2 separate regions of the Homo sapiens genome follow, and region 2 is linked to region 1. The links come from fine-mapping of genetic effects on gene expression. A gene starts in region 1. The other region holds a variant in brackets. All regions are shown on one strand. Distances are from middle to middle.

Region 1 (15,353 bases):
GAAGGTGACATGCGAGTGAGAATTTGAAGGGGGCAGGAGGGAGCCCAAGGGGTGTCAGGGGAAGAGCCCTCCAGCACAGGGAGCGGCAGGCACAAAGGCCCTGCACTCGGGCAGGACTGGGTTGTTCCAGGAGCATCAGGGAGGCCAGGCGGGCTAGAGCAGGTGGTGACTCAGGGAGGCAACATGACAAGACTGGGTCACAAAAGGCCACTGGAGGCCTGCTTGCTGCTTGTGGAGGGCCTTGTAAACTGCTGGAAAGCCTTTCTTTTCTTTCTATTTTTGTTGTTGTTGTTGTTGACAGGGTCTCCCTCTGTCTCCCAGGCTGGAGTGCAGTGGCTAGAGCTCGCTGTTACTTCAAACTCCTGGGCTCAAGTGTGTGCCACCATGCTCTGCACCCAGGCTGGAGTGCAATGGCGCCATCTCTGCTCACTGCAACCTCCGCCTCCTGGGTTCAAGCGATTCTCCTGCCTCAGCCTCCTGAGTAGCTGGGATTAAAGCTGCCTGCCACCTGCACAGGTAATTTTTTTTGTATTTTTAGTAAAGACAGGATTGCGCTATGTTGGCCAGGCTCGTCTTGAGCCCCTGACCTCAGGTGATCTGCCCGCCTCCCAAAGTGCTGAGATTACAGGCGTGAGCTGCACCTGGCCTTAATTTTTAAATTTAATTTAAAATTTTTGTTTTTGTTGTTGTTGCAGAAATGGAGTCTCCCTATGTTGTGCAGACAGGTCTTGAACTCATAGCCTCAAGTGATTTGTCCGCCTCAGCCTCCCAAAGTACTGGACTTACAGGTGTGAGCCATGACACCCAGCCAAACCTATGGTTTTTTTTTTTGGTGTTGTTGTTTTGTTTTTTTTTTTTTTGAGATGGAGTCTTGCTCTGTCGCCTGGACTGGAATTCAGTGGCGCAATATCTCGGCTCACTGCAACCTCCGCCTTTCAGGATCAAGCGATTCTCCTGTCTCTGCCTCCCGAGTAGCTGGGATTACAGGTGCATGCTGCCATGCCTGGCTAATTTTTTGTATCTTAGTAGAGACGGGGTTTTACCGTTGTTGCCCAGGCTGGTCTTCAACTCCTGAGCTCAGGCAATCCACCCGCCTCAGCCTCCCAAAGTGAGCCACTGTGCCCGACCAAGCCTATGTTTTTGTTCTGGGTGACGGTCTAGAGCAGGACCAGACGTGATATGGTTTCTGTATTAGCCGTATTCTTCTGTGCCCCATGCTTCAAAGATAGAAGCAAGGAGGCCAGGTGAGATGTGAGGAGGCCTGCCCCATGGTGGGGACAGTGGGGGAACGAGAGAGGACTGGACTCCAGATGTGTCTGGAGGCAGAGTTGACATTGGGTGTGGAATTGTAAAAAATAATTTGTTGGCCGGGTGTGGTGGCTCACGCCTGTAATCCCACCACTTTGGGAGGCTGAGGCGGATGGATCATGGGGTCAGGAGATCGAGACCATCCTGGCTAACATGGTGAAACCCTGTCTCTACTAAAAATACAAAAAACAAGATTAGCCGGGTGTGGTGGCAGGCGCCTGTAGTCCCAGCTACTAGGGAGGCTGAGGCAGGAGAAATGCGTGAACCTGGGAGGCAGAACTTGCAGTGAGCCGAGATTGCACCACTGCACTCCAGCCTGGGCGACAGAGCGAGACTTCATCTCAACAACAACAACAAAAATAATAATAATAATAAATTTTTCTTTTTTTTTGTCCTCCCTGCCTCATCCCTGTAATTTATTTTATTTTACTTTATTATTTTTTTTGAGACAGAGTTTCACTCTTGTTGCCCAGGCTGGAGTGCAATGGCGTGATCTCGGCTCACTGCAACCTCTGCCTCCCGGGTTCTAGCAATTCTCCTGCCTCAGCCTCCTGAGTAGCTGGGATTACAGGCATGCGCCACCACGCCCGGCTAATTTTGTATTTTTAGTAGAGACAGGGTTTCTCCATGTTGAGGCTGGTCTCGAACTCCTGACCTCAGGTGATCCGCCCGCCTCGGCCTCCCAAAGTGCTGGGATTACGGGCTTGAGCCACTGCGCCCGGCCTATAATTTTTTTTTTTTTTTTTTTTTTAAGAGACAGGGTTGTCAGGCACGGTGGCTCACGCCTGTAATCCCAGCACTTTGGGAGGCCGAGGCAGGTGGATCACAAGGTCAGGAGTTCAAGACCAGCCTGGTCAAGATGGTGAAACCCCAACTCTACTAAAAATACAATAATTAGTATTGTATTTTTACATACATTTTAGGGGTGAGGTGGCAGACCCCTGTAATCCCAACTACTCGGGAGGCTGAGGCAGGAGAATTGCTTGAACCCAGGGGGCGGAGGTTGCAGTGAGCCGAGATTGCACCACTGCATTCCAGCCTGGGTGACAGTGAGACTCCGTCTCAAAAAAAAAAAAAAAGAAAAGAAAAAAGAGAGACAGGGTCTTGCTGTATTGCCCAGGCTGGAGTGCAGTGGCTATTCACAGGCACAATTCCGCTACTGATCAGCCTGGGAGTTTTGACCTGCTCCATTTCCGACCTGGGGTGGTGGTTCACCCCTCCTTAAGCAACATGGTGGTCCCCTGCTCCTCGGAAGTCACCATATTAATGCCAAAGTTAGTGCGGACACCCTCTCGGCATAGCGCACTACAGCCCAGAACTCCTGGGCTCAAGCGATCCTCTTGCCTCAGCCTCCCAAAGCTGTGTGAGCCACCACGCCTGGCCATTTAAATCATTTTCAAATGTACAATTCAGGGACATACAGTACATTCACGATGTTGCACAACCATCTCCACAGTGAAGTTCCAGCAGGAAACCCATGTCCATGAAGCAGGCACTCCCTTCTCCCCTCCGTGTGCTAGGCCAGTGCAGGGAGAGACATGATATGGGGCTGCCAGCAAGGCAGATGCTAGGGGAAATTGAGGGAGATGGCTGGAGGAGAAGAGGGTCTTCGGCTATCCCCTGCGTCACTCCCAGGAGCCCCAAGATGTGTGCGCAGCAGAGGAGACTCTGAGACACATTCTCCTCTAGACCAGGCACTGCTGAACACTGGAGCAGTGCAAGCAGGACGGCAACACCAAGAGGTCCTGGGCGGGGTGGGGTCTGGGGAGGGAGAGAGATACAAGAACCAAGAGTCCCAGGGCTGCAGCTGAGACAGGGCTGGTAATGAGGCACAGCCCCGGAGTGGGCAGGGGTGGGGACCTCCCATGGATGGGATGGTCAGAAGGCTCCTGGAGGAGGTGACATGTAGGTGGGGTAAGGCAGAGGAAGCCTGGGAAGATTGGGGGAAAGGTGTTCCCGGCCTAGAAACAGCCGAATGCCAGCAGGCCTCTCCGTGTCACACCCCTGCCTCCTAGGGCCATCCATCTCTCTGTCTGTCTGTTCCAGGGAGGGTTCCCCGGTTTGTCTTTTACTGAAAGATCCTGGAGGAGGGGAGGGCTAGTTGTTGCTCTTATGCAAAGGCCCTGAGGCAGGTGCAGGGTGTGAAGGGGAGGGGAGACATGAGGCCAGGAGTCGAAGTGGAGCTGGAGGCAGGGCCATGCCTCATGTGCCTGGGGCCAGCTGTGGAGTGTTTGGAATTTCATCCTTGGCCCACAGGAAATCCCCGTAGGGACCGGGGGTGGGGGTGGGGGGTGGTGGGGGTTGTAAGCCAGGAAGGAAGTGATCCAGCCCTTGTTTCAAAGATGATCTCTGGCTGTCATGTCATTAGGGGATGGCAGTTGGAAGGGTGTCGTGGTATCTAAGCTGGTAGAGGAAAGAGTACGGCCCAGGTATCCCACCTCCCAGGGCACCCTCGTGTCACTCTTGACAGGCCCAGTACTTGCAGTGTCCTGGGGAAAAGCCCCATGTGTCTCTCATCTGTGAACGAGAGGTGAATGGAGGCCCATCTAGCTGGGCCAGGCCTGACCATCCGCAGGACTGAATGCCAGCAAGCCTTTCCACGTCCCACCCCTGCCCACTAGGGCCATCCGTATCTGTCTGTCTGTCCCAGGGAGAGTTCCCTGGTTTGTCTTTTACTGAAAGATCCTGGGGGACGGGAGGGCTAGTTGTCACTCTTGTGGACAAGGGGTAGGTCCTCAGCCAGGAAACCTTTCTTTTTTTTTTTTTGAGATGGAGTCTTGCTCTGTCCGCCAGGCTGGAGTACAGTGGCACGATCTAGGCTCATTGCAACCTCCCCCTCTCGGGTTCAAGCGATTCTCCTGCCTCAGCCTCCTGAGTAGCTGGGAAGACAGGCGCCCACCATCACGCCTGGCTAATTTTTGTATTTTTAGTAGAGACGGGGCTTTACCATGTTGGCCAGGCTGACCCCGAACTCCTGACCTCAACTGATCCGCCCGACTCGGCCTCCCAAAATGCTAGGATTACAGGTGTAAGCCACTGTGCCCAGCCCAGGAAACCACTCTTGGAAGGCAGTTTCTAGACAGAGAAAAGAACACCCTTTTCTCTGAGGGTCTAAATGTTGGTGTAGCCGGTATCTGTCTGCTGCGAGGCTGCTGGGAAGCCAGTGCTCTGCTCATTATCTATATCCCTGCCAATATATCTACACTCTTACTGGGGTCTGGTTTAAATGTCCCAGCCTGACCCCAAGACAAAGTCAGCAGTGGTGACTGAAGCAGCCCTTGCTGCGTGGCAGGCTCTGTGCTGGGCACGGGATTCCAGACACACAAGAGTGAGACCCTATCTTGCAGAGCTTACAATTCGGGGTGGGGGCAGGGGGGAGGGAAACACAAGTAGCCCTAAGCATGGCTCATGACAACTGTCATCAGTGCCAGGAGTGGGGACACCAGGGCCTGGGACAGGGGGCTGAGGCGGTCAGGAGGTTCAGAAGGGCTCCTGGAGAAGGGGGCCTGCGAGCTGAGCTGTGAAGGCCAAGGGGCATGATCTGGGTCGCGTGGCCTGGTGGGAGCCTCACCCCTGGGCAATCCTGGGAAGAGAGGTCCCAAAAGTGGGGAATCTTGAGGCCAGCTTAGGCAGGAGGCCCTCTCCTCTCCTGGGCAGAGACCTGCTTCAGCCTAGGTCTGAGCTCTGCCCGAGCTGGTCTTCCCACATGCCTGCGGCCCCTTGAGGGAGGCCTCACACTGGTCCCAGGCCTGCTGCTGCCGTCCGCCCATGCCTCACGGGAAGCTTCTTAGACAGAGTGAAAAGCATTCCTAAGGGAATGTAAAGAAAGGGCGGGGCGGCTGGGCAGGAAAGGGCCTGGCTCACACTTCCCCTCGATAATCTTATCGCGATGACAAGCTCCCAGCCTGGCCTCCATTTGTTCATCTGGACCGGGAGGGTGCCCTGGCTGCAAGGCTGGAGTTAGGATTGACATAACCGTAAAGTGTGGACGTGACCCACCAGGAGCATGGGGATGAGGACTCCTCGGGGTGGCCTTGTGGGAACGGGGTGGGGCACCCACACTGGCCTTGGCACCCTAGCAAAGGTGTGGGTGTGGAAAGCCAGGCCTGAAGTCTCAAGTCCTGGCAGGGAGGCCATCTCCTCCAACACCCTGGCAAATGAAGGATGCAAAGGAAACGAAATCTACAGAAACGCGGAGACCCTGAATGATGTGTTCTTCTGTGTCTTCTTCCTCCTCATTCTTTCTGTTATTTAATTATCTCTATTTTCCAAACAGCTTCCTTGAGATATAATTCATAGTACATGCCATACAATTCACCCATGAGAAGTGTCCGATACAGCAGTTTTAGTATATCCAGAGTCATGCAACCATCACCACAATCAATGTTAGAACATCTCGCCGGGTGAAGTGGCTCACGGTTGTAATCCCATCACTTTGGGAAGCTGAGGGAGGTGAATCACGAGGTCAAGAGATCGAGACCATCCTGGCCAACATGGTGAAACCCTGTCTCTACAAAAAATTAGCTGGGCATGGTGGTGCGCACCTGTATTCCCAGCTACTTGAGAGACTGAGGCAGGAGGATCGCTTGAACCCAGGAAGTGGAGGTTGCAGTGAGTCGAGATTGCACCCTGAGATCGCGCCACTATACCCCAGCCTGGCGACAGGGACTCCGTCTCATACAAACAAAAAAACAAAAAACAACAACAAAAAGAACATCTCATTACCTCAGAAAGAAACCCTGTACCCATTTGCAGTCACTCCACATTCCTCTCTCCCTCAGCAACCAATAATCTGCTTTCTGCCTGTTGTGGACATTTCATAGAAATGGAATCATACACTATGTGGTCTTTTGTGACTAGCTTCTTCATTTAACCTGTTCAGGATTCATCCATGTTGTAGCATCCTTTTTATGGCTGACCCATATTCCAGTGTGGATAGACCACACTTTGTTTAAACATTCATCAGATGAGGGACATTAAGTATGAATAATACTGCTATGAACATTTGCCCACAAGTTTTTGTGTGGACATATGTTTTCAGTTGTTTTGGGTATATATCTCTGAGTGGGATTTCTGGGTCAAATGGCAACTCTATGTTTAACTTCTTGAGAAACTGCCAGACTATTTTCCAAAGCAGCTGCACCATTTTACATTCCCACCAGCAGTGGCTTCCAGCACTTGTTACTGCATCTTTTTGATGAGTGCTATCCTGGTGGGCAAGAAGTGGCATCTCTTTGTGGTTTTTTCATTTCCCTGACGGCTAACATTGAGCATCTTTGCATGAGTTTCTTGGCCTTTTTTTTTTTTGAGACAGGAGTCTCGCTCTGTTACCCAGGCTGCAATGGGGGGCGATATTGGCTCACTGCAACCTCTGCCTCCCAGGTTCAAGTGATGCTCCTGCCTCAGCCTCCAGGTAGCTGAGATTACAGGCACCCACCACCGCGCCTGGCTAATCTTTTTTTTTTTTTTTTTTTTTGAGACGGAGTCTCACTCTGTTGCCAGGCTAGAGTGCTGTGGCGTGATCTCCGCTCACTGCAACTTCCGACTACCTGGTTCAAGAGATTATCCTGCCTCAGCCACCCCATAGCTGGGATTACAGGAATGCACCACCATACCCAGCTAATTTTTGTATTGTTAGTAGAGATGGGGTTCACCATGTTGGCCAGGATGGCCTTGATCTTCTGACCTCGTGATCTGCCCGCTTTGGCCTCCCAAAGTGCTGGGATTACAGGCGTAAGCCACCGCATCCAGCCACAGCTAATCTTTTTTTTGTTTGTTTTTTTGAGACGGAGTTTTTGCTCGTTGCCCAGGCTGGAGTGCAATGGCGCAATCTCTGCTCACTGCAACCTCCGCCTCCTGTATTCATGTGATTCTCCTGCCTCAGCCTCCCGAGTAGCTGGGATTACAGGAGCCTGCCACCATCTGCAGCAAAATTTTTATCTGTAGGAGAGACGCGGTTTCTCCATGTTGGTTAGGCTGGTCTCGAACTCCCGACCTCAGGTGATCCATCCGCTTCAGCCTCCCAAAGTGCTGGGATTACAGGCGTAAGCCACCATGCTCACCCACACAAGTTTTAATTTTTATGAATTCCAATTTTTCTCTTTTGTTCCTTATCCTTTTGGCATCGTAATCAAGAAGACTTTGCCTACCTCATGGTCACAGAGATTTAGGTTTTCATCTGACAGTTTTATAGTTTTACAATTAGGTCTTACAATTAGGTCTACGATTTACTTGCTTAGTTATTAACATATTAAGTAACAAGTTCTAGCAGTGGGTCTAATAACTTCTGTGATTTTGGAGACGAGTATACGTGCTATTTTGAGGCTGGGCGCGGTGGCTCATGCCTGTAATCCCAGCACTTTGGGAGGCCAAGGTGGGCGGATCACGACGTCAGGAGTTCGACACCAGTCTGGCCAACATGGTGAAACCCCATCTCTACTAAAAACACAAAAATTAGCTGGGCGTGGTGGTGGGTGCCTGTGATCCCAGCTACTCAGAGCCTGAGGGAGGAAAATAGTTGGAACCCGGGAGGTTGCACTGAGCTGAGATCATGCCACTGCACTCCAGCCTGGGCGACAGAACAAGACTCTGTCTCAAAAAATAAAATAAAAATAAAATAAATAAATAAATGCTATTTTGAGATATTTCCAGTGACTGCAATGTGTTGAGATGGAATATCACCTACATTCATAAGTGAAGAAAATGCTGGATTTTGGTTAAAGGTTGATTTTTTTTTTGAGACAGGGGTCTTGCTGGAGGCCTCAAAGTACCTGGGATTATAAGTGAGTGCCACCGCACTTGGTGTTAAAGGTTAATTTAAATAAAGATGTATTTACCAGCTCTGGTTCATGGTCTCCAGAATTCTATCCATGGATTCCAGGTTCAGAACTCTTAGGATGGCTAAAATTCCAGCCTGAAGTCTCAGTTTTCCAATAGTCCTTTGGGGGCTTGAAACCTCCCAGGAATGGCTTTAGGGTGTTTTCCTGACACTTCCCAGCCCTGGCCCATACCCTGCCCTCTGCCTGGCTCCATTCTTGGGAAAGGAATTCCTTGCCAAACAGAATTTTCTAACAAGCCCAAATATAGTAATAATAATAATTAGCAGCAGGAAGAACTATAAACACTGGGGTAGGAAAGCCTGTACCCGTCTCTCCTTTTCCTGATCCCTTCCCTTCATTCCTGAACTGAAGGAGACGGAGCCCCTTTGGGCTTTGATGACTCCATCACTGGGGTATGTTCATTTGATGGTTGATTTTGCTGTACCAGGTACTTCCTTTCCCATTTTCTAATCATTTTATAACACATGCTGACTCTTTTCCCTTCCCTTTTTCTGGGAAAATACAATGAATACAAAATTATAAACACTGTATGTTTAGCATCAGACCAAGCATGTTGCAGACACCCTTGCCCCTGGCCGTCCCAGAATCCCTGGGGCAACTCTGGCCTTGGTTAAGAGGCTCCATAGCTCCTGGCTTAGCTGTGCCCCGGCTCCTCCCCTCATATCATGCCTGATCCTAGGAAGATATTTCACTTCTGGGTGCCTCAGCTTTCTCATCTATAAGGGTGGGGTATGAGATGGTCATGGTCATAGTTTTTGTTTTTTTTTAGGGTGGGGGGACGAGATGGTCATAGGGTCACAGTTTTTTTTTTTGTTTTTGTTTTATACAGACGGGATCTCGCTATGTCACCGGGCGCCATGGCTCAAGCCTGTAATCCCAGCACTTTGGAAGTCCGAGGCGGGCGGATCACGAGGCCAGGAGTTCAAGACCAGCCTGGCCAATATGGTGAAACCCCGTCTCTACTAAAAATACAAAAATTAGCCGGGTGTAGTGGCGGGTGCCTGTAATCTTAGCTACTCGGGAGGCTGAGGCAGAGGTTGCAGTGAGCCCAGATCGTGCCACTGGACTCCAGCCTGGGCGACAGAGTGAGACTCTGGATAAAAAAAAAATTAATGAAAGGAAAAAGGCAAGGAGGAATCCCAACGATGACAGGTTGAAAGCTGCAGAGGAGACTGATGGGGAGTGACCTGTGAGGTAGCAGGACCAGGTGAACTGGAATCCCCAGGTCCAGATAAGTGAGGGTTTCCAGGAGGAGGAGTGGTCGACTCAGCTGCTGCTGAGAAGCTCAGCGAGACCAAGAAGTGACCCCCGGATTGGGCAGCGGAGAGGTTGTAGGTTACCTTAGCAGCAGTTAAGGGGTGGGGACACAGCCCTGCTGGATGGGGTGATGAGAGGCTGGGACGGGAAGGGGTGGAGGAGGTGAGTGTAGGGAAGTCTACAGAAATGTCTGAAGGGAGGGAGAAATGGCCAGAGGCAGGAGAGGGTTTGGGGGCAGGAGTCGGTCCAGAGTGAGGCTGATGGCACAGAAAAGCCTCGAGGGGAGGGCAGCGGGATGGGGTCCTAGGCCTGAGGAGGACGTGAGTACCCGACAGGGAAGTTTGTCTGTTTGGGTACTGGGAGAGGAGAAAGATCCTGAAGGCTTTCGTTTTTCTCTGAAGAATGAGGTAAGGCCACGGGCTAGGAGCCCAGGCAGAAGGGGCTGTGGGAGGTGTAAGGAGAGGGGAGCAGGCATGAGGTCTCACTTTCAGAGTGGGAGTCTCACCGAAAAACATGATAGGGCTGCCGGCTTTGTGGATGCGTTAGAAGTGTGGGATCACAAATTCCCAATCCCAGGGCTGTGTGTGGAGCCCTCTCCCCAAGCGATGGGAAGGCGAGTGTCCTTAACGTTGGGGTTCCCTATGCTGGAAGGATGGACTCTATTACAGTCCATCAGGCCAGGAGGTAGGTACTGTTTCCTGTATTTTACGGTTGGTAAATCTGAGAGCTTCAGGCCAATACAGTATCGGTGTAGCATTAGGGTCAGACAAAATAGAACAGGGCCCGGCACATATTAAGTGTTAATATTCGTTGGAAAAAAAAAAAAAAGAATGCTTGTCAAGTCCACTGCTGCGCCCCTACTGGTAGCCCAGCCTGGCCTCAGCCTTGGGGGCTGGTGGGTGGAGAGGGCGGCCTTGTGTGCTCTGCTATCCCTATTGCCTTAATGACCCAGTATCACCTTTGTGCCCTTGTAGGTTGATCCTTCTAGTCTCGTGGCAGAACTTTGTAGACACCAAGCGAGCGGGGCAGCGTGTTCTGGACCTCATTCCTCACACAGGGCTCACCTCCGGATGAGTCAGAGGCCTTAGCCGGTGGCCCAGCCCCGGGAATGCCACCCCGGTTCTGTACCCTGCCCAGGCCAGCTGACAGGGTGTATTGGGGCACACACCTGCAGCATCCAGGGCACTCCAAGGAGAGGGACGTACTTTTGAGGAGAGTCTAAAAGTCTAAGTCCCCCACCTGAACTTGGTGGGGGAAGGGCTTCTATACCAGGAGGGCTCCCAGCCCTGTTTCTTAAAGGCCATTTAGGCAGAAGTGAACGTGGTCTCTTCAATAAAGTTAATAATGGTTCATGCTGCAGAAAATGTTCAAGACAAAACCCTGCTTATTTACTCAGGCTTTAAAACCATAAAACTCCCAAATTCTCCCTGTAGCTATTTATATCCAGAGCTAGTCCCCAAATTAAGCTCAGGTTTGAAGTAACTTAAAAGAAAAATAGCCTTCCCTGCTTTAAAAAGATTTTCCGTATAGACCTCCACTGGTCTAATTACGAAGGGCGCGTAGTTTCAGGGTTGGCTGGGGGTAGGGCACCGGGACCTCCAAGGCAGTTACACTCCTCAGCCTCCTAACAGCTGTACGGCTGCCCGGTGGTCCCTCTCCAAGGCAGCGGCTCTCAGGCTAGCCTCAGCCTACCCCACCCGCCCGCACCCCGTGTTCTCCCTCGTGGGGGTGCCGGGGGGAGTAGGGAGGCGGGGCGGGCGGCAGGTCCGGAAAAGTGGCTGCCCTCGCCCCGAAAGAAGTTGACCCTCCTCCCGTGCCGAGAGCTTGGGATGAAAATAGCTTCTTCCTCTTTACCCTTCCTGGACCCCCGCCCCAGGACGACTGGGCCCCTTCATTCATCTTTCAGCGGCCACCCAGGCGGCTTGGGCGTCCCCACGCCGGGACTCTGTGCCCCGGGGACCCACGGGGACCCTCCCTTGGGCCTCTGAAGCCGCGGCGCACCCCGCACCCAAGCCACCCCGGGGGCCCCGGCCTCCCCCACCCAATTAGCGGGCAGCACCGCAGACCCGAGTCCCCACGCAGCTCGCGCCAGGGGAGGCGGCCGCCTGGGAAGCCCGTCCCCCGCGCCGCGGCCCCCGCCCCCGCCAGCCCCGCGTCCCCTGGGAAAGGCGGGGGCGCAGCGAGTTTCCCCCAATTAGTTTCCTCTTTGTATGGAGTCTTAGCGCGCCCGTACTCCTCCGCGCAGCGGAAAGTAGTCCCGGCCGGGCGCTCCGCGGCTTCCCAGCGCCAGACACATTTTACTTTGAGAAGTCGACGGGACTCTCAGCGGGGTCCTTCAGATGGGGGGCCAGAGGCTGCGGGAGGCGTGCGCGGGCAGCAAGGGCAGGGGCCGCGGCCAAGGGTAGGGGGCGGGGAGGGCCGCGAACTCCTCGCCGCTGCCTGGAGAGATGGATCATGGGGCGTAGGGAGATGGCAAACCTCAAACCACGTACGGCGGGCGATACGCGTCAACCGAACCTCGCCAACGGAAGCCCGGAGCCGCCCCTCCCCGCTCCCCCGCCCCGCCGCCCCGGACGGACGGGCGCGCGGAGCCAACCCCGCTGCCGCTGGCTGTCCAAATCCCACCAGAGCCAATGGGAGCGCGAGGGGGGGCGGAGCCATCTCGCGTCAGTTGGGCTGCGCGCCCCCCTCCCCCGGCGCCCCTGCAGGCCCCGCCCCTGCCTCCTCCCCTCTCCGCTCGCTGCTCCCGGAGTAGTTGGTGCCAGTGAAGTGAGGGCGGCGATGAGAGCGAAAGTTGCGCTCGGCTCGTCGCTGGGGGCTTGAAGCGGCTCCGCGCTCTGCCCGTTTGGGCCTCCCCCGACTCGGACTCGCGCCCGTGGGCTCCCGCCGCGCCCGCCCGGCCCCGCGCCGGCCCCGCGCCCCCTCCCCCGTCTCGGCGCCCCCTCCTCAGGAGCCGCGGGTCCCCGCCACTTTCGCACGGCCCCGGCCCCCGCCGATGCCGGCCATGGTGGAGAAGGGCCCCGAGGTCTCAGGGAAGCGGAGAGGGAGGAACAACGCGGCCGCCTCCGCCTCCGCCGCCGCCGCCTCCGCCGCCGCCTCGGCCGCCTGCGCCTCGCCAGCCGCCACTGCCGCCTCGGGCGCCGCCGCCTCCTCAGCCTCGGCCGCCGCCGCCTCAGCCGCCGCCGCCCCCAATAATGGCCAGAATAAAAGTTTGGCGGCGGCGGCGCCCAATGGCAACAGCAGCAGCAACTCCTGGGAGGAAGGCAGCTCGGGCTCGTCCAGCGACGAGGAGCACGGTAGGTGGCAGCCGCCCCCGCGGCCCCGGGCCCCGCGCCCCGCGCCGCGCTGACCGCCGTATTCTGCTTCCCCCGCAGGTGGCGGTGGCATGAGGGTCGGACCCCAGTACCAGGCGGTGGTGCCCGACTTCGACCCCGGTGAGTAGCGGCCCCGGCCGGCCGGCGGCGGGGATGAGCGGGAGCCCCGGGTCCCCGGCGAGCCCGAGGGGGCGGGAGCCCGCCGACAACTTTCTTTTTGTGCGTTCGCCCTGCCGTCCGTGGGGAGAACAGCAGGGCGAGGACGAGGAGGCGCACACGCACACGAGTGTTCTGCAAACGTGCCTCTGCACCCGGGGGAGGCCAGGTCGCCCCCAGCAGGGCCGGCGCCGCTGCCCCCTTGCGCCTCCGAGGACTGCGGGTGGCGTCGGAGGTGGCCACACCTGGCCTGGGGGCGCTGGGGGTCCCTGCGTCCAGGTGAGCTGCGCCTCGGCCAGGGGTAAGGGTGGCAGTGCCGGAGAGTTAGTGTCCTGCGAGCGCCCCGGACTTAGGAGGTCCCCAGAGACCCCTTTCTCGGAACCCTTCCCAAAGGCTGCTCCCCACGCCTTTGCTCCTCCTCTCAGCCTCTGGGCTCTTGCTGGCTCCTGACTGCCCTCCCATCCAGAAGGCGAGTAGAAGAACGACCCCCCAAAACCAGTCAATAAAAGAAGTGTGTTTTCCAGAGGGCGCCTGCCTGGGGAAGAGAGTCTCGCGTGTGGCAGTTGGATTTTAGGACCTATTTGTAAATGTGTGTATTTCCTTTTTTTTGGAGGAAGAGATTGTGAAATTGAGAAGCATCAGAAGCTTTAGCCTAACAAATGCTTTTCACCTACAAGAAAGCCCTACACCCTAGAATGGAACACTTAGTTCCCTGGCTGCTATTCTGTGTAGAAGCAAATTTAAAGTGGTACAAGAAAAAAAATCCGATCAGACAAAGGAATTCGTCAGATTTTAATGCATGAGATTCTAGCCAGTGTCTGTATGAGACTGTCTTTAAAGGTTGTTGGTATGGAAAATGTTTGAAAGAACGTAGGATTTATTTCAGAAATAAAATTCAAAAGAGCATCTTGTAAAGCTGGAGTTAACAATCCTCCATGGTTGGAGGGCTTTAGAGCTGGGGTTCTGTATGTGGGTTATACCACTAGTTTATTTGAAAAGATAAACGCATACATGTTTTTTCCTTGGAAACAAGACTGCAGAAAATTGCAATGATCTAGTCCTTGAAAAAGGCGATTGCTCTCAAGCTGTTATTAAGGTACTAAACTGCACTTTGAAGTGAAAATACATAGAGGTCCTAGGTGAGCTCTTGGACACTCTGGAAATAAATGACTTCCTAAATTGGCCTTCTAAATTTTGATTTGTTGACGTAAATCTGTTAAATTTATTTGTCTAATACTCGCGTTTGTGTTTCTTTTAAGTCCATGTTAGTGTTTTTGATAGTTTCCTCTTCTCCCCAATTCTTTTTTTTTTTTTTGGTAGTCACTTCTCGTTTATGAGTGACAGGATAGAACTAGGTGGCCAGGCTATATCTCTTGTATGCTTGGCTCCTCCGTTCCTTGGTTGGCCACCAGGGGAAGCATACTGTTTTTTGGTTACAGTTGACCCTGTCTTCATTTTGTAGGTCAAGTCTATCTTTGCTTTAAAACACAGAACATAAAGCTTGTTACCAAATTTTCCTAATGTATTATTTTTAAAAATCGACTTCCACAAATCTTTGAGTAAGTTGGTAGGCTTTTTGATACATTTTTGTTAACATAAATTTTGAAAACTTTATGTAGATGTGTTGGATGTGACTAAGGAAAAGGGCATATTTGTCAACAACAGGAATTAGATTTCTGACATTCATCGAAATATTGACATCAGCTCTGCATTGTTAGTAATGAGTTTGACTTCTTTGGAGTTATACTTTTCTTTGAAACAGCAAATATAATATTTTGAACTGTCTTTGGGCTTTTTGTTGGAATAGATATGAGCATAAACTTGCTAGTGACCAGCTATTCTAAAATGGAAAACATTTATCAGATTGCAGTAGCTCACACCTGTAGTCCCAACACTTGGGGAGGCCAAGGCTGGAGGATCTCTGGAGCTCAGGAGTTGGAGACCAGCCTGGGCAATGTAGTCAGACTCTGTCTCAACAAAAAATAAAAAAATTAGCTGGGCATGGTGGCATGTGCCTGTAGTTTCAGCTACGGGGGGGTCTGAGGCTGGAGGATCTCTGGGAAGTCAAGGCTGCAGTGAGCAGTGATCTGGCCATTGCACTCCAGCCTGGGTGACAGAGTGAGACCCTGTCTCAGAAATAAAAAGGAAAACATCTAACTGTTTTGCTGCATAGTCTTGCTGCCAATTGGTTGAGTATTGATATTAAAATTTCCAAATTTCTTTTTTTTTTTTTTGAGACGGAGTCTTGCTCTGTCCCTCAGGCTGGAGTGCGCAGTGGTGTGATCTCAGCTCACTGCAAGCTCCGCCTCCCAGGTTCACGCCATTCTCCTGCCTCAGCCTCCAGAGTAGCAGGGACTACAGGCGCCCACCAACACTCCTGGCTAATTTTTTGTATTTTTAGTGGAGACGGGGTTTCACCGTGTCAGCCAGGATGGTCTTGATCTCCTGACCTCGTGATCCGCCCGTCTCGGCCTCTCAT
Region 2 (15,353 bases), 57 kb before region 1:
ACGAGGCCTATTTTCAATGATAAATGCCCCAAATCACAAGTAGTTCAACCCCCAAGTCTGAATTCTCCCAAACTGGAGAAATCGGCTTATTTCCAATAACAAGCTCCAGGCTCAGGGGAGGCCAGCCCAGCCGCGCAGGTGAAGCTGCAATTAGTGCAGGGCAATTAGGGACGCTCCCCGTTCGGGTGGGGCCTGGCCCACGGCGGCGCTTCGGGAGGGAAAGGCAGAGAGGGTGTGCGCCAGCCCCAGCCGCCCACGAACCGCTGGGAGCAGACCCCTCTCTCTGGCCTGGAGGGGACACGGTGCCACTGACTTGAGCCTGGAACCAAAGGGCGGGGTACCCATGCACCCCTGTGCTGAGAGATTCGCTGAGAGCCGCGCAGAGGGCCCCAGAGTCCAAACAGGACACCCAGGATTGAGGCGAGGTTAGGAAACGCACAGTACCTGAGGTCCTCACTTTCAGGGCTCCCTGAGTGATGAAAGGGGGGCTGGGAGAAGGCAGAGGCTGCCCGGGAGAGAAGAGCAGCTTTGGGGGGTTCTGGGTCCCCGCACCCCACCCCGCACTAACCAACTCCCCCAGCCCCAGATAGAAGGGGAGCTGGGCAGGTTCTGGGGGGTCAGCCCCAGGCAGGACCGCTCCCCAACACCCTTCCCTTGGTTACCCTCAGGTATGGAGTCCAGAGTGGAGTCAGCCATGCTCAGACCTTGACCCCCTTTTTTTAAATTTAATTTTTAGTAGAGATAGGGGGTCTCACTATGTTGCCCAGGCTAGCCTCAAACTCCCAATCTCAAGCGATCCTCCCCCCTTGGCTTCCAAAGTGCTGAGATTACGGATCTGAGCCTCCACGCCTGCCCTGAGCCTCGCCCTGCGGCTGCCTGGGCTCCTCCCCGCCTCCGCCCCGGACCACCAGGGGGCGCTGTGAAGCCTGAGACTGGCCGGGCTTCACCTTGGACCCGCCAGGAGTCCCTGCAGGAGTTGGGAGCCCCGCCAGCCACAGCTACTTCCCCGACCCTCCCGGCTTCCCACCGCTGATTGGACCAGGCATGGGCATCTGACTGAGGGGAGCCTATCCATAGGCTGGCCAGTGATCTATCAGGGCTGGCCTAGTGAGAACACGGCCAATCAGATGCTTTCCTGGAACCCGGGGCCAAAGCTGCCCCAGGGGAGTGTGGTAGCCGCAGGCAGAAGGGCTAGCCCGGAGACAGGAGGGGGAGGTCCGAGGAGGGGATCCCGGCGAGGGAGACGCGGGGCGAGTGGCCTGGGCTCCTCCTTGGCTTGACCCAGCTTAGACTTTCTCAAACCGAAGTCATTCTCGCTGGCTCCTGGCGACTCTCATCCTGTCCGCTGTCACCCTTTCGTGATTGACCTGAAATCACTTCGTCACTGCAGCCGCACCCTAAGCATTCATCTCATATCTGTGATGTTTGCTGTGCTCCTTATGTTTGCTCTAATATGGGTTAAACCAAATTCAACACCATCAAAATAATGTTCTTCCATTTGCACACCCACTTTCACAGTAGCAGCGTTCCCAACAGCCAAAAGGTGGGAGCAGCCCACGGGTCCACGGACGGGTGAAGGGGTGAGCAAACAGTCTATACGGACAGTGGAGAGCTCTTTAACCGCAGAAAGAAGGAAATTCTGCATATGCTGCAACATGGATGAAAGGTGAACCCTGACATTATGCGGAGTGCAATAAGCTAGTCACAAAAAGACAAATACTGTAGGATTCCACTTACATTCTGTGTCCAGAGTAGTCAAATTCAGAGAGACAGGAAGTAGAATAGTGGTTGCCAGGGGCTGGGAGGAGCCGTGAATGGGGAGGTATTGTTTAATGGGTATGGAGTTTCGGCTTAGATTGAACTGTACGCTTTTTTTTTCCTTCCTTCCTTCCTTCCTTCCTTCCTTCCTTCCTTCCTTCCTTCCTTCCTCCCTCCCTGCCTCCTTTCTTCTTTCCTTCCTTCTTTCTTTTCCTTCCTTCCTTCCTCTTTTTCTCTTTCCCTCTTTCCCTCCTTTTTCTCTTTCTCTTTCCTTCCTTTCTTTCTTTTTCTTTCTTTCTTCCTTTCTTTCTCTTTCTTTTTCTTTCTCTTTCATTCGTTTGTTCCCTCCCTTTCCTTCCTTCCTTTCTTTCTCTTTCTTTATTTTTCTTTTCTTTCTTTCCATTCCTCCCTTCCTCCTTCTTTCCCCTGACCATGGCAAAGACGTGAACTGTACACTTAAGCATGGTTTAAACGGTAAGTGTTATGTGATGTGCGTTTTACCACCATGTTTGAAAAAGGTTCTTCTGTGCACCCCAGAACCCATCCTGCGTGGGGATCCACAGAGCGCCCAGCCCAGCCTCTGCATGGCATGACCAAGAGCATTTGCTCACCGGGGGGCTCACCGTGGCCTGAGCTAGGGCAAAAGTACCAAGCCAGGATGGCCCTACCCAGCCAGAGCCGGAGACTGAGGGGTCAAACTGGGGTACTTTCCTCGTCTGCAAGGAGAACTCATAGCAGTCCTCTTTAAGGTTCTTTTTTTTTTTTTTTTTGAGACCATGACTCACTCTGTCACCCAGCCTGGAGTGTAGTAGCGCCATCTCAGCTCACTGCAACCTCTGCCTCCCGGGTTCAAGCGATTCTCCTGCCTCTGCCTCAGCCTCTTGAGTAGCTGGGACTATAGGCATGCACCACCATGCCCAGCTAATTTTAGTATTTTTGGTAGATACTGGGATTCACCATGTTGGTCAGGCTGGTCTTGAACTCCTGACCTCAGGTGATCTGCCCGCCTTGGCTTCCCAAAGTGCTGGGATTACAGGCATGAGCCAACGCGCCCGGCCCCTCTTTAAGGCTCTCAAGGGCCCTGTCTGCCAAGGAAGAAAATGCCATCCCAACCCCCAGCCCCACCCCCACTTCCATACACACGTTGGCCTTAGTGGGGACTAAAAGCAGAGAGGAAATGGAGGCTTAGAGAGGTCGAGTGACATGCCCAAGGTCACACAGCCACAACCGGAAGCCAGCAATTCCAATGGCAAAATCCATACTCTCTCTAAAACTTTGCTTCTGAACTACAAGAATGAGAGCCTGGCGAGTGCAGGCTAGGTTGAGGAGAAGCCACCGGACAGACACAGAACACCTTCCGGCGCACCAGCCTTCCGTGGCCATTTGGAGTGGGAGGTGCAAAATTGAGCAAATGCATAAAACCTAACTTTTGCATCACACAAGGATTCCCATGTTGCAGGGGTACCGCGTAACACTCGCATGGAGTTTTTTGGTTTGGGTTTTTTGTTTTGTTTTGTTTTTTTGTTTTGTTTTGTTTTGTTGAGACAGAGTTTTGCTCTTTTTTTTTTCTTTTTTTTTTTTTTGAGACGGAGTTTCGCTCTTGTTGCTCAGGCTGGAGTGCAGTGGCGTGATCTCAGCTCACTACAACCTCTGCCTCCCGAGTTCAAGCGATTCTCCTGCCTCAGCCTCCCAAGTAGCTGGGATTACAGGCCTGCACCACCAGACCCAGCTAATTTTGTATTTTTAGTAGAGACGGGGTTTCACCATGTTGGCCAGGCTTGTCTTGAACTCCCGACCTCAAGTGATCTCCCTGTTTTGGCCTCCCAAAGTGCTAGGATTACAGGCGTGAGCCACCACACCCAGCCTCACGTGGATTTTTGATAAAGCAAGGTTCTTCTGTGATAGCAGCAGGCCTCCATTATCCTGGTCAATTGGCCTGCACAACTAGGGAAACAATGGTGGAAAACTTCGAGAAGCTTGTGTTCCACCTGCCACCAATGGAGAAAGCACCACTCCACTGTGACATGCTTCCTGATGACTCGCTGAACAGAAGGATGCACCCTCAGCCACCAAGGGTGTAGTTTGTGGGTGCCTCCTGGGAACATCAGGTTGGCAACACAAATGCCAGCCCCTCACCCTAGAGTGATTTCAGAGTGTCTCATCTCTTAACTCTGAGTCACAGAGCGGTGGGGAGGAAGACATGGGGCAGGGCAGGGCAGGGCAGGGCTGGGCGTGGCGTGGCCACTCATGGAGCAGAGGGAAGGGTGGAGAGGTGCACTCTGAGTTTGTTGCCTTCATTTGCTTTGTTGATGAAGGAGGAGCCTGAGGGGCCTGGCAGTGGGACTGAGGCTCTGGGCCTTCCTGCTCCCCTGGGTTTGACCCAGACTCCAGCTACCCAGGCATTGCCAGGCAGTATCCTGGGGAAAGGTGGGACCTGCTGCTTCCCACGCCTGCCCTGTGGGATGGGGAGGGCTTGGGGAAGGTGCTGCTATGCCCTGAGTCCCCGGAGCCAAAGACTCCCGAGGGTGACAAGCAGCCCTGCCCGACCTCAGGCCCAGGGGTGATGGCTGTTGGTGGCTCCCAGGCTGAGTCACTGTAGCCTTCCCGTCACTCTCTCTGACACCCAGAGACTGGGTCCTGCCATCCTGGGGTAAGGCAGGGGGCAGGAAGGTGCTTTCGAGAATGTAGCCCTGGCCGGGCACAGTGGCTCACGCCTGTAATCCCAGCACTTTGGGAGGCAGAGGTGGGCAGATCACCTGAGGTCAGGAGTTTGAGACCAACCTGGCCAACATGGTGAAACCACTAAAAATACAACATATACTAAATTACTAAATAAAAAAAATACTAAATACAAAAAGTACTAAAAATACAAAAAAGTAGCTGAGCGTGGTGGTGCACACCTGTAATCCCAGCTGCTTCAGAGGCTCAGGCAGGAGAATCGCTTGAACCTGGGAGGTAGAGGATGCAGTGAGCTGAAATCGTGCCACTGTACTCCAGTCTGGGAGACAGAGCGAGACTCTGTCTCATAAATAAATAAATAATAAATAAATAAATAAATACGTAGCTGTGCCAGAGGCTTAGGGAACTGGGAGTGTCTTAGGGAACTGGGGACCTAGGAGGGGAGGCCACGTGGGTAGGGCTCCCACCCCACTCACTTCAACTGGACATTCTCAGTTCAGGAAGTGATTTTGTTATTGTTGTTGTTGAGCTTCTGAGTAAAATTTCCTGTGAAAAGGGGTTTAGCAGGCGGGCGCAGTGGCTCAAGCCTGTAATCCTACCACTTTGAGAGGTCAAGGCAGGAGGATCGCTTGAACCCAGGAGTTCAAGACCAGTCAGGGCAGCATGGTGAAACCTTCTCTACAAAAAAAAAAAAAAAAAAAAAAAAAAAAAAAAAATTAGCTGGGGGTTGTGGCGTGCACCTGTAGTCTCAGCTACTCGGGAGGCTGAGGTGGGAGGATCACTTGAGCCCACGAGGTTGAGGCTGCAGTGAATGGCAATCACACCATTGGACTACAACCTGGGTGAGAGAGTGAGACACTGTCTCAAAAAAACAAAAATTAAAAAAAGAAAGAAAAAGGAGTTAACTACTAAAAATCATTTCTGGGCCAGGTGCAATGGCAGAGTCCCAGCTACTCTGGAGGCTGAGGTGGGAGGATCATTTGAGTTCTGTAGGTGAAGTCTGCAGTGAGCTGTGAGCACGCCACTGCACTCCAGCCTGGACAACGGAGCAACACCCTGTCTGAAAAAAATATAATAAATTAAAAATAAAGCCTGGGTGCAGTGGATCATGCCTGTAATCCCAGCACTTTGGGAGGCCTAGGTGGTCGGATCACCTGAAGTCAGGAGTTCGAGACCAGCCTGACCAACATGGAGAAACCCGGTCTCTACTAAAAATACAAAATTAGCCAGGCGTGGTGGCATATGCCTGTAATTCCAGCTACTCAGGAAGCTGAAGCAGGAGAATCACTTGAAGCTGGGAGGCAGAGGCTGTGGTGAGCCAAGATCGTGCCACTGCACTCTAGCCTGGGCAAGAAAAGCGAAACTCCATCTCAAAAATAAAATAAAATTAAAAAATAGCCGGGCGCTGTGGCTCACACCTGTAATCCCAGCACCTTGGGAGGCCAAGGCAGGCAGATCACAAGGTCAAGAGTTCGAGACCAGCCTGACCAACATGGTGAAACCTCATCTCTACTAAAAATACGAAAATTAGTCGGGCGTGATTGCACGCCCCTATAGTCCCAGCTACTCAGGAGGCTGAGGCAGGAGAATCGCTTGAACCCGGGAGGCGGAGATTGCAGTGAGTCAAGATGGCGCCACTACACTCCAGTCTGGGTGACAGAGCGAAACTGATCCCAAAAAATAAATAAATAGAATAATGAAGATAGAAATCATTTGGGGTCCCTGCACCCTACATAAAATGTCAAATCATAAACCCCAGGGCCTACTCTGAACCAAGACCTCTCTGTTCCTCACTGTACCTCCTCAGAGAAGAAACTCTGGAAGAGCAAGAAAAGTGTTAGACTCAGAGTCAAGCGGACCCAGTAGAAAACCCCAGAAAAGGACAGCTCAGACTCAATGGAAGCTTATTTTTCTCTCATTGTGAAGATGTCGGCCGGGCGCGGTGGCTCACACCTGTAATCTCAGTACTTTGGGAGGCCAAGGGGAGTGAATCGCTTGAGGTCAGGAGTTCGAGACCAGCCTGGCCAACATGGTGAAACCCCGTCTCTACTAAAAATACAAAAAAATTAGCTGGGCGTGGTGGCAGGCGCCTGTAATCCCAGCTACTTGGGAGGCTGAGGCAGGAGAATCACTTGAACCCGGGAGGTGGAGGTTGCAGTGAGCTGAATTGTGCCACTGCACTCCAGCCTGGGCAACAGAGCAAAATGCTGTCTCAAAAACAAAAACAAAAACAAAATCTGTTTAGAGGGGCCCAGGGCTTATATGGCAAGGAGTGTCACAGTGTCAGGAACCTGGGCTGCCTTTATTCCTTTCATCCTGTGGCTCTGCCGTACCTGGTTTTATTTTTTTTCTTTTTGTTTGCTGTTGTTTTTTGAGATGGAGTTTTGCCCTGTAGCCCAGGCTGGAGTGCAATGGCGCAATCTTGGCTCACTGCAACCTCCGCCTCCTGGGTTCAAGTGATTTTCCTGCCTCAGCCTCCAGAGTAGCTGGGACTATAGGCTCACGCCACCACGCCTGGCTGATTTTTTGTACTTTTAGTAGAGACGGGGTTTCACCATGTTGGCCAGGCTGGTCTCCAACTCCTGACCTCAGGTGATCCACCTGCCTCAGCCTCCCAAAGTACTGGGATTACAGGTGTGAGCCACTGTGCCTGGCCTCTTTTTTTCTTTTTTTTAGACACAGAGTCTGGCTCTGGGGCCCAGGCTTGAGTGCAGTGGTGAGACGGGAGAATAAGTCCTAGAGGAAGGGAACCTGAGGACTTCCCAGAACT[A/G]AATCAGATGGAGAGGAGAGAGGAGGCATTTCAGCTACGACAGGAAATATCCTCTTCATTTGCATAGGGCGTTCACCAAGTAAGTGACTTTGTAACTTCATCCTCTTCATTTACATAGGGTGTACACCCAGTAAATAGCTTTGTAACTTCACTTCAGTAACTCACTTTAAGCCTCTTCATTTACATAGGGTGCACACCAAATAACCAATGGAAACCTCTAGAGAGTATTTAAACTCCAGAAAATTCTGTGACGGGCTCTTGAGCCAACGTGCTCCGGCCGCTCCCACTCTGTGCAGTCGACTGTACTTTTGTTTTCAATAAAACTCTGCTTTTGTTTCTTCATTCTTTCCTTGATTTGTTTATACGTTTTGTCCAATTCTTTGTTCAAGACACCAAGATCCTGGAAACCCTCCAACGCTAACAGTGGCACGATCACAACTCACTGCAGCCTCTCCTGGGCTCAGGTGATCCTCCCACCTCAGCCTCTCAAGTAGCTGGGACTACAGGCCCACACCGCCATGCCCGGCTAATTTTCGTGCTTTTTGTAGAGATGGAGGTCTCCCTCGGTTTCCCAGGCTGGTCTCGAACGCCTGACCTTGTGATCCGCCCGCCTCAGCCTCCCAAAGTGTTGGGATTACAGGTGTGAACCACCGCGCCCGGCCTGGACCCTCCATTTCTTTTTTTTTTTTGAGACAGAGTCTCGCTCTGTTGCCAAGGCTGGAGGGCAGTGGCTCTATGTTGGCCCACTGCAAGCTCCGCCTCCCCGGTTCACGCCATTGTCCTGCCTCAGCCTCCCGAGTAGCTGGGACTACAGGCGCCTGCCACTACGCCTGGCTAATTTTTTTGTATTTTTAGTAGAGACTGGATTTCACCATGTTAGCCAGGATGGTCTCCATCTCCTGACCTCATGATCCACCCGCCTCGGCCTCCCAAAGTGCTGGGATTACAGGCGTGAGCCACCGCGCCCGGCCTAGTTTTCTTTTTTAAGACGGAGTCTCACTCTGTCGCCGAGGCTTCACTGCAACCTCCGTCTCCCAGGTTCAAAGGTTTCTCCTGCCTCAGCCTCCCAAGTAGCTGGGATTATAGGCGCCCACCACCATGCCTGGCTAATTTTTGTATTTTTAGTAGAGACGGGGTTTTGCCATGTTGGCCAGGCTGGTCTTGAACTCCTGACCTCAGGTGATCCACCCGCCTCAGCCTCCCAAAGTGCTGGGATTACAGGCATGAGCCACTGCACTGGGCCACATGAATAGTTTTCATTTCTGAGATCACTTCGTGTTCAAAATGGTTGCTGAAACTCCTGCCATTTTATCTGCATTCCCAGAAGTGAGAAGGGAGTAGAGTGTGCCTTTCCCTTTAAGAACTCTTTATGAAGTCAAACACACTCCTTACATTGAGGCCAAAAATTAGTCACATGGCCACACCTATGTGTAAGGGAGGCTGGGAAATGTCTTAATTCCAGGCAGCAAATGCCCTGATAAAATATCAGCTTCTAATCCCTTGGATCTCTGTGGGAGGTGGAGGTGGGGAGTGGAAGTGGAGGACCGTGAGCAATAGCTGATGTAATCACTGAGAAGCTGTGTGTCCTTGGGCAAATCCCTTCACCTCTCTGAGCTCCTGCCTGTCTTTGAAATGAGGATGTAGAAAGATCATCTCCAAGGACACTCCCTGCCTTGACATTTTGAGACTCTGGCGCAGGGAGCCCAGGGTGGTCAAAGACAAGAACAGAAGCTGCTTGGGTTTAAAAGTTGCCTGGCCAGGCACGGTGGCTAACGCCTGTAATCCCAGCACTTTAGGAGGCCGAGGCGAGTGAATCTCCAGGTCAGGAGTTCGAGAGCAGCCTGGCCAACACGGTGAAACCCCGTCTCTACTAAAAATACAAAAAAATTACCTGGGCATAATGACAGGCACATGTAATCCCAGCAACTTGGGAGGCTGAGGCAGGAGAATCGCTTGAACCCAGGAGGCGGAGGTTGCAGTGAGCCAAGATCGCGCCACTGCACTCCAGCCCTGGCGACAGAGTGAGACTCCGTCTCAAAAAAAAAAAAAAAAAAATGTTGCCTGTTCTGGGCTGGGCGCGGTGGCTCATGCCTATAATCCCAACAATTTGGGAGGCTGAGGCAGGCAGATCACAAGGTCAGGAGTTCAAGACGAGCCTGGCCAACATGGAGAAATCATGCCTCTGCTAAAAATACAAAAAATTAGCCGGGCATGGTGGCAGGCACCTGTAATCCCAGCTACTCGGGAGGCTGAGGCAGGAGAATCTCTTGAACCCAAGAGACAGAGGTTGCAGTGAGCCCAGACTGTGCCACTGCACTCCAGACTGGGCAACAGAGCAAGACTCCATCTCAAAAAAAAAAAGAATGGCTAAGGCAGAGCAGGTCCGAAGGCAGCTAGTTGCCCTTTTGTTTGTTTGTTTCTAAGATGGAGTCTCCCTCTGTTTCCCAGGCTGGAGTGCAGTGGCATGATCTTGGCTCCCTGCAACCTCTGCCTGCTGTATTCAAGCGATTCTCCTGCCTCAGCCTCCAGAGCAGTTGGGATTACAGGCATGAGCCACCACGCCTGGCTAACTTTTTGTATTTTTAGTAGAGACGGGGTTTCCCCATGTTGGCCTGTCTGGTCTAGAACTCCTGACCTCAGATGATCTCCCTGCCTTGGCCTCCCAAAGTGCTGGGATTACAGGCCTAAGCCACCATGCCTGGCCAAGCTTGCCCATTTTTATGGTTATTTCTTGATTACATGCTAAATAGAGGGTGTATTATTCATGCCTCCCCATTTTAGACCATATAGGGTAACTTCCTGACGTTGCCATGGCATTTGTAAACTTTCATGGTGCTGGTGGGAGTGTAGCAGTGAGGACGCCCTGAGGTCACTCTTAATCGCCATCTTGGTTTTGGTGGGTGTTGGCCAGCTTCTTTACTGCAGCCTGTTTCATCAGCAAAGTCTTTGTGACCTGTATCTTGTGCCGACCTCCTATCTCATCCTGTGACTTAGAATGTCTTAACCTCCTGGGATTGCAGCCCAGTAGGTCTCAGCTTCATTTTACTCAGCCCCTGCTCAAGATGGAGTTGCTCTGGTTCACACAACTCAACACTTTGGGAGACTGAGATGGGAGGATCCCTTCAGCACAGGAGTTCAAGACCAGCCTGGGCAACATGGCGATACTCCCTCTCTGCAAAAAATATATGTAAATTGCCGGGCACGGTGGCCTGTAATCCCAGCACTTTGGGAGGCCACGGCGGGAGGATCACGAGGTCAGGAGATCGAGACCACCTTGGCTAACACGGTGAAACCCCGTCTCTACTAAAAATACAAAAACTCAGCCCGGCGTGGTGGCGGGCACCTGTAGTCCCAGCTACTCGGGAGGCTGAGGCAGGAGAATAGCGTGAACCCAGGAGGCAGAGCTTGTGGTGAGCTGAGATCGCGCCACTGCACTCCAGCCTGGGTGACAGAGCGAGACTCTGTCTCAAAAAAAAAAAAAAAAAAGATGTATATTTACTTATTTACAAAAACCGGGCCAGGCTGGGCGCGGTGGCTCACACCTGTAATCCCAGCACTTTGGGAGGCCAAGACGGGTAGATCACAAGGTCAGCAGATCGAGACCATCCTGGCTAACACAGTGAAACCCCGTCTCTACTAATAATACAAAAAAAAAATTCGCCAGATGTGGTGGCGGACACCTGTAGTCCCAGCTACTCGGGAGACTGAGGCAAGAGAATGGCATGAACCCAGGAGGCAGATCTCGCAGTGAGCCAAGATCGCGCCACTGCGCTCCAGCCTGGGCGACAGAGTGAGACTCAGTCTCAAAAACAAAAGCAAACAAACAAAAAAACTGGGCCAGACGCGGTGGCTTAGCCTGTAATCCCAGCACTTTGTGAGGCTGAGGTGGGCCCACCTGAGGTCGGGAGTTCGAGACCAGCCTGCCCAACATGGTGAAACCCCATATCTACTAAAAATACAAAAATTAGCTGGGCATGGTGGCAGGTGCCTGTAATCCCAGCTATTATTGAGGCTGAGGCAGGAGAATCACTTGAACCGGGAGGTGGAGGTTGCAGTGAGCCGAGATGGCACCACTGCACTCCATCCTGGGCAACAGAGACTGTATCTCAGAGAAAAAAAAAAGGGGGGGGGCAGGTGTTTTGTCTCACGCCTGTAATCCCAGCACTTCGGGAAGCCGAGGCGGGCAGATCACAAGGTCAGGAGTTCGAGACCAGCCTGGGCGACATGGTGAAACCCCCGTGTCTACTAAAAATACAAAAATTAGCCAGGCGTGGTGGCGCATGCCTGTAATCCCAGCTACTCGGGAGGCTGAGGCAGGAGAATCATTTGAACCCAGGAGGCAGAGGTTGCGGTGAGCTGAGATTGCGCCACTGCACTCCAGCCTGGGTGACAGAACAAGACTCTGTCTCAAACAAACAAACAAAAAACGATCTGTCCTCTGGTGACACGGGAGCCTGGATGCCTTGCTGGAGTGGATAGTCTGTGGCTCGGGGGAGACTCTCTAGGAGCCCCCAGGCCACCCTGTTCCTTCCTGCAAGGCTACTTGCTGCCCTGACCCCTCTGAGGGGCAGGCAGGGAGGGGAGAGGCACTGGGGAAACTGCAGGGGGATGTGGTTGTGATCCAGGCCTGTGGAGGGAGTGCTGGGGAAGGGGAGACTTCAGCAAGGGCAGATGAAGCCTTGTTTTTTCCTTTTTTCTTTCTTTCTTTTTTTTTTTTTTTTTTTTTGCGATGGAGTCTCGCCCTGTTGCCCAGGCTGGAGTGCAGTGGCGTGATCTCAGTTCACTGCAAGCTCTGCCTCCCGGGTTCATGCCCTTCTCCTGCCTCAGCTTCCCAAGTAGCTGGGACTACAGGCGCCCACCATCACGCCCGGCTAATTTTTTGTATTTTTAGTAGAGACGGGGTTTCACCCTGTTAGCCAGGATGGTCTCGATCTCCTGACCTCGTGATCCACCTGCCTCGGCCTCCCAAAGTGCTGGGATTACAGGCGTGAGCCACTGCTCCCAGCCAGATGAAGCATTGTGACTCTAGGGCATGTAAATTCCCTGGCAGCCAGGCCCTGGGAGCACCCCTCCCCTCCTGTGCCCTTGACACCTACCTCAGTGAGGCAGCCCCAGCAGCCGGGCAGTGGGCGGCAGAGAAGGGTGTCCTGGGACAGAGGTTTTCCTAGTCTTTCTTCAGAATGGAGGAAGCCCCTGGGGTGCCTGGACTTCCTGTAGGACCCAGGGAAGAAAGATGGCCATTCTCCCTGTCGCGTGATGGGGGCTCCAGCTGTTTTACACAAGAAGACATATAACTTTCATGGTTAAGAGCAGGGGTTCTGGGCCTGATGGCTTGGGTTCGAATCCCGGCTCCTATGCATGCCAGCTGTGTTACATACTTCTAGACAAATTACATAACTTCTCTGTGCCTCACTTTCCTCCACTGCAAAACGAGGAGTCCTGAGCAGGTGAGATCCCCTGACAGCTCTCGGGACAGCTGGAGTGCTCAGTGAAAGCTCTTCGTGCAATCACTGCGGAGGGTGACCAGGGACATCGATAGGACGCTGGAGGGATTACCCTATGTCCCCCGACCCGCCCGACTACAACAGCCTTGCAGATAAGCCACGAGCCTGCCTGCTCCTCCTCGTGAGTTGGAGACAGGAGAGGGAGCAGAGTTCAGGGGCTTGTTTCTTTCTTTCTTTTTTTTTTGAGATGGAGTTTCGATTCTGTTGCCCAGGCTGGAGTGCAGTGGCGCAATCTCGGCTCACTGCAACCTCTGCCTCCCAGGTTCAAGTGATTCTCCTGCCTCAGCCTCCTGAGTAGCTGGGATTACAGGCCTGCGCCACCATGCCTGGCTAATTTTTGTATTTTTAGTAGAGACAGGGGTTTCACCATGTCGCCCAGGCTGGTCTCGAACTCCTGACCTTGTGATCTGCCCGCCTTGGCCTCCCAAAGTGCTGGGATTACAGGCGTGAGCCACGGTGCCTGGCCAGGACCCTCCATTTCTTTTTTTTTTTTTTTTTTTTTTTTTTGAGATGGAGTCTCGCTCTGTCACCCAGGCTGGAGTGCAGTGGTGCGATCTCAGCTCACTGCAAGCTCCGCCTCCCGGGTTCATGCCATTCTCCTGCCTCAGCCTCTCGAGTAGCTAGGACTACAGTCGCCTGCCACCACACCTGGCTAATTTTCTGTATTTTTAGTAGAGACTGGGTTTCACCGTATTAGCCAGGATGTTCTTGATTTCCTGATCGCGTGATCCTCCCGCCTCGGCCTCCCAAAGTGCTGGGATTACAGGTGTGAGCCACTGCGCCCGGCTGGACCCTCCATTTCTAATAAGCTCCTGGGAGAGTCCTCCCTGGTGCTCTGAGGGTGACTGACCGGCAAGGCACTTCTGGGGCCCCTAAGCCCTCCAACCTCAGCTGCTGTGGAGAGCTGACCCCCAGGGGAGTACGTCAGGGTGCTGGGTGGGGCACCAGTTTCAAGGATGCCCAACACAGCCCTCCCCTTGGGGCTGCAAGGCCCTGGGACCAGCGGCCCAGCCCTGTCCCCAGGCAGGTCCTCAGACCTAGGACCACAGGGGGGTCTGGGGCCCAGGCCAAGGGCAAACCTGCTGGGATCTGAGCCCCTCTTGGTGGCTTCCTGGTGTGTGCACATCCTTCCCCAGGCAGGAGAGGAAGCAGGGCCAGCTCCTTCTCCTCCCAGGGCAAGACCTGAAGTCTCTGTTTGTGTGTCTGTCAGACTTGCTGTGAGGGCCACAGTGTCTCCACTGAGGCCTTATCCAGCCTCCAGGAGGTCCCATTTTTCAGGGAAAGGGCCTGCTGCTGAAGGCTGTCACTCATCTGACTTCAAATCCCAGCTCTGCCACTTCCAGGCTGTGTGACTCCAGGCAAGTTGCTTAACCTCTCTGTGCCCACTACTTCTGTAAATGGGGATATCATGGGATTCTCGTGAGCTGTGAATAGCATCTGTTGATGTGTTTGTTTCTGTGCATTCAGACTTTCCCTCTTTCCTCAGGCACTTGCCGGGCAGCCTTCTGTGCCACATCCCTGACCCTGCCCCAGGGCACACCAGCTTCAGTGACAGGGATGGCTGGTGAACAGGAGGCCCAGGCCTGCTGCTCTGGCCGATGTAAATCCAAGGAGCTGTGATGACGCGGGAGAGGGGCGGTTTGGGAAAAAATGTGTGAAGGATGCCCCCGTGGGAGCAGGAGCCCCACTGGCAGGGGCAGGCCGGGGGTAACTCAGCCACAGGGAAGGGGCCCAGCCGGGGCTGGAGGGAGGGCCACCTGCAGAAATGAGCTGTGGGGGGGCGAGAAGGGCAGGCAGCTGGGGCTGAGGAAGACCAGCCCCCAAGACACCCATGGAGAAACTGAGGCAGAATCTGTACTTGGAGCCAGCCACCGCTCTCCACTGGCCCACACTGCTGTGATCCTTCCCACGCTGCGCGGCTGGCTGGAACCCAAACCCCCCACAGCGGGCCTGGCCTTCAGAGCTGGTTCCAGATGTTTAAATACCCAGCCTTCACCTCCCGTCACAGACACTTCCACTGGAAGGTGTTGGTGCCACATCCCCAGTGCTGCCAGGCTAATATGGGGTGGGGGCCTTGCAGCCCCAAGGGGAGGGCTGTGTTGAGCGTTCTGGACACTGGTGCCCCACCCAGCACCCAGCAGGGGCACTCTGCGCTGTGCTGCCCCTCCCCAGCTGCCTGGGCCACCAGTTCAGGAGAGCTCACCCCTTTGCAACCTTTCCCAACTCAATGCCACGCCAGGAAGTCAGGAGGGGGATGACCCTGCCACACTCTGCCCCCCAGCTCCCTTCCCACCATGCCCCGGGACCAAGACAGGAGGGCCAGCTGGGCCCAGGGCACTTCGCCAGTATCATCGGGTCCTCACCACAGCCCTCAAGGGGGTGTTCCTGTTCCACACACAGAAGACTGAGGCCCAGGGATGGGACTGGGTCGTGTGAAACGCCAGGCCATGCCCGGCCCCGCAGAGTCCTGCGTAGCTGCCCGGCCGGCCCAGGGCTCAGATCCCCTCCTCCAGGCCTGGCCCCAGCTGCTATTGGGGCCCACTGAGGCCTACTGGATCCTAACTGGATGCAATTAGGACATCACCTGATGCCCCTGTCAGGGTGGCTCCTCCCAACCGCTAGAGGACTCAGGCCAAAGGCAT

Which allele goes with the higher level. Positions count from the first base shown, and alleles are read on the strand shown. Sizes are in standard deviations (SD) of each study's normalised expression.
As copies of A replace G in region 2, the expression in monocytes after R848 of the gene that starts at base 12,162 in region 1 goes down (moderate effect, 0.70 SD a copy in Quach 2016).

What was found.
Region 2: its variant is fine-mapped to the expression of RCOR1 in monocytes after R848 (Quach 2016, PIP 0.95). The same link has a PIP of 0.9 or more in monocytes after Pam3CSK4.

What each region holds. Positions count from the first base shown.
Region 1 is chr14:102,580,488-102,595,840 of GRCh38, forward strand. It overlaps RCOR1 (REST corepressor 1), which reads left to right and starts at 12,162. Exons shown (of 12, transcript NM_015156.4): 1 at 12,162-12,700; 2 at 12,779-12,838. The coding sequence starts at 12,400. It also overlaps the pseudogene RN7SL546P. RefSeq lists enhancers at 1-445, 3,720-4,248, 10,434-10,483, 10,765-11,580 and silencers at 11,159-12,468, 12,529-13,138.
Region 2 is chr14:102,523,743-102,539,095 of GRCh38, forward strand. It overlaps LOC105370680 (a long non-coding RNA gene), which reads left to right. Exons shown (of 4, transcript XR_944239.2): 2 at 1,519-1,666; 3 at 7,114-7,286; 4 at 7,396-7,549. Among named protein-coding and RNA genes, the nearest start is that of MIR4309, 8.2 kb to the right of the region's middle. RefSeq lists a silencer at 801-1,100 and an enhancer at 4,996-5,497. The variant A/G (reference allele first, on the strand shown) is at 7,208.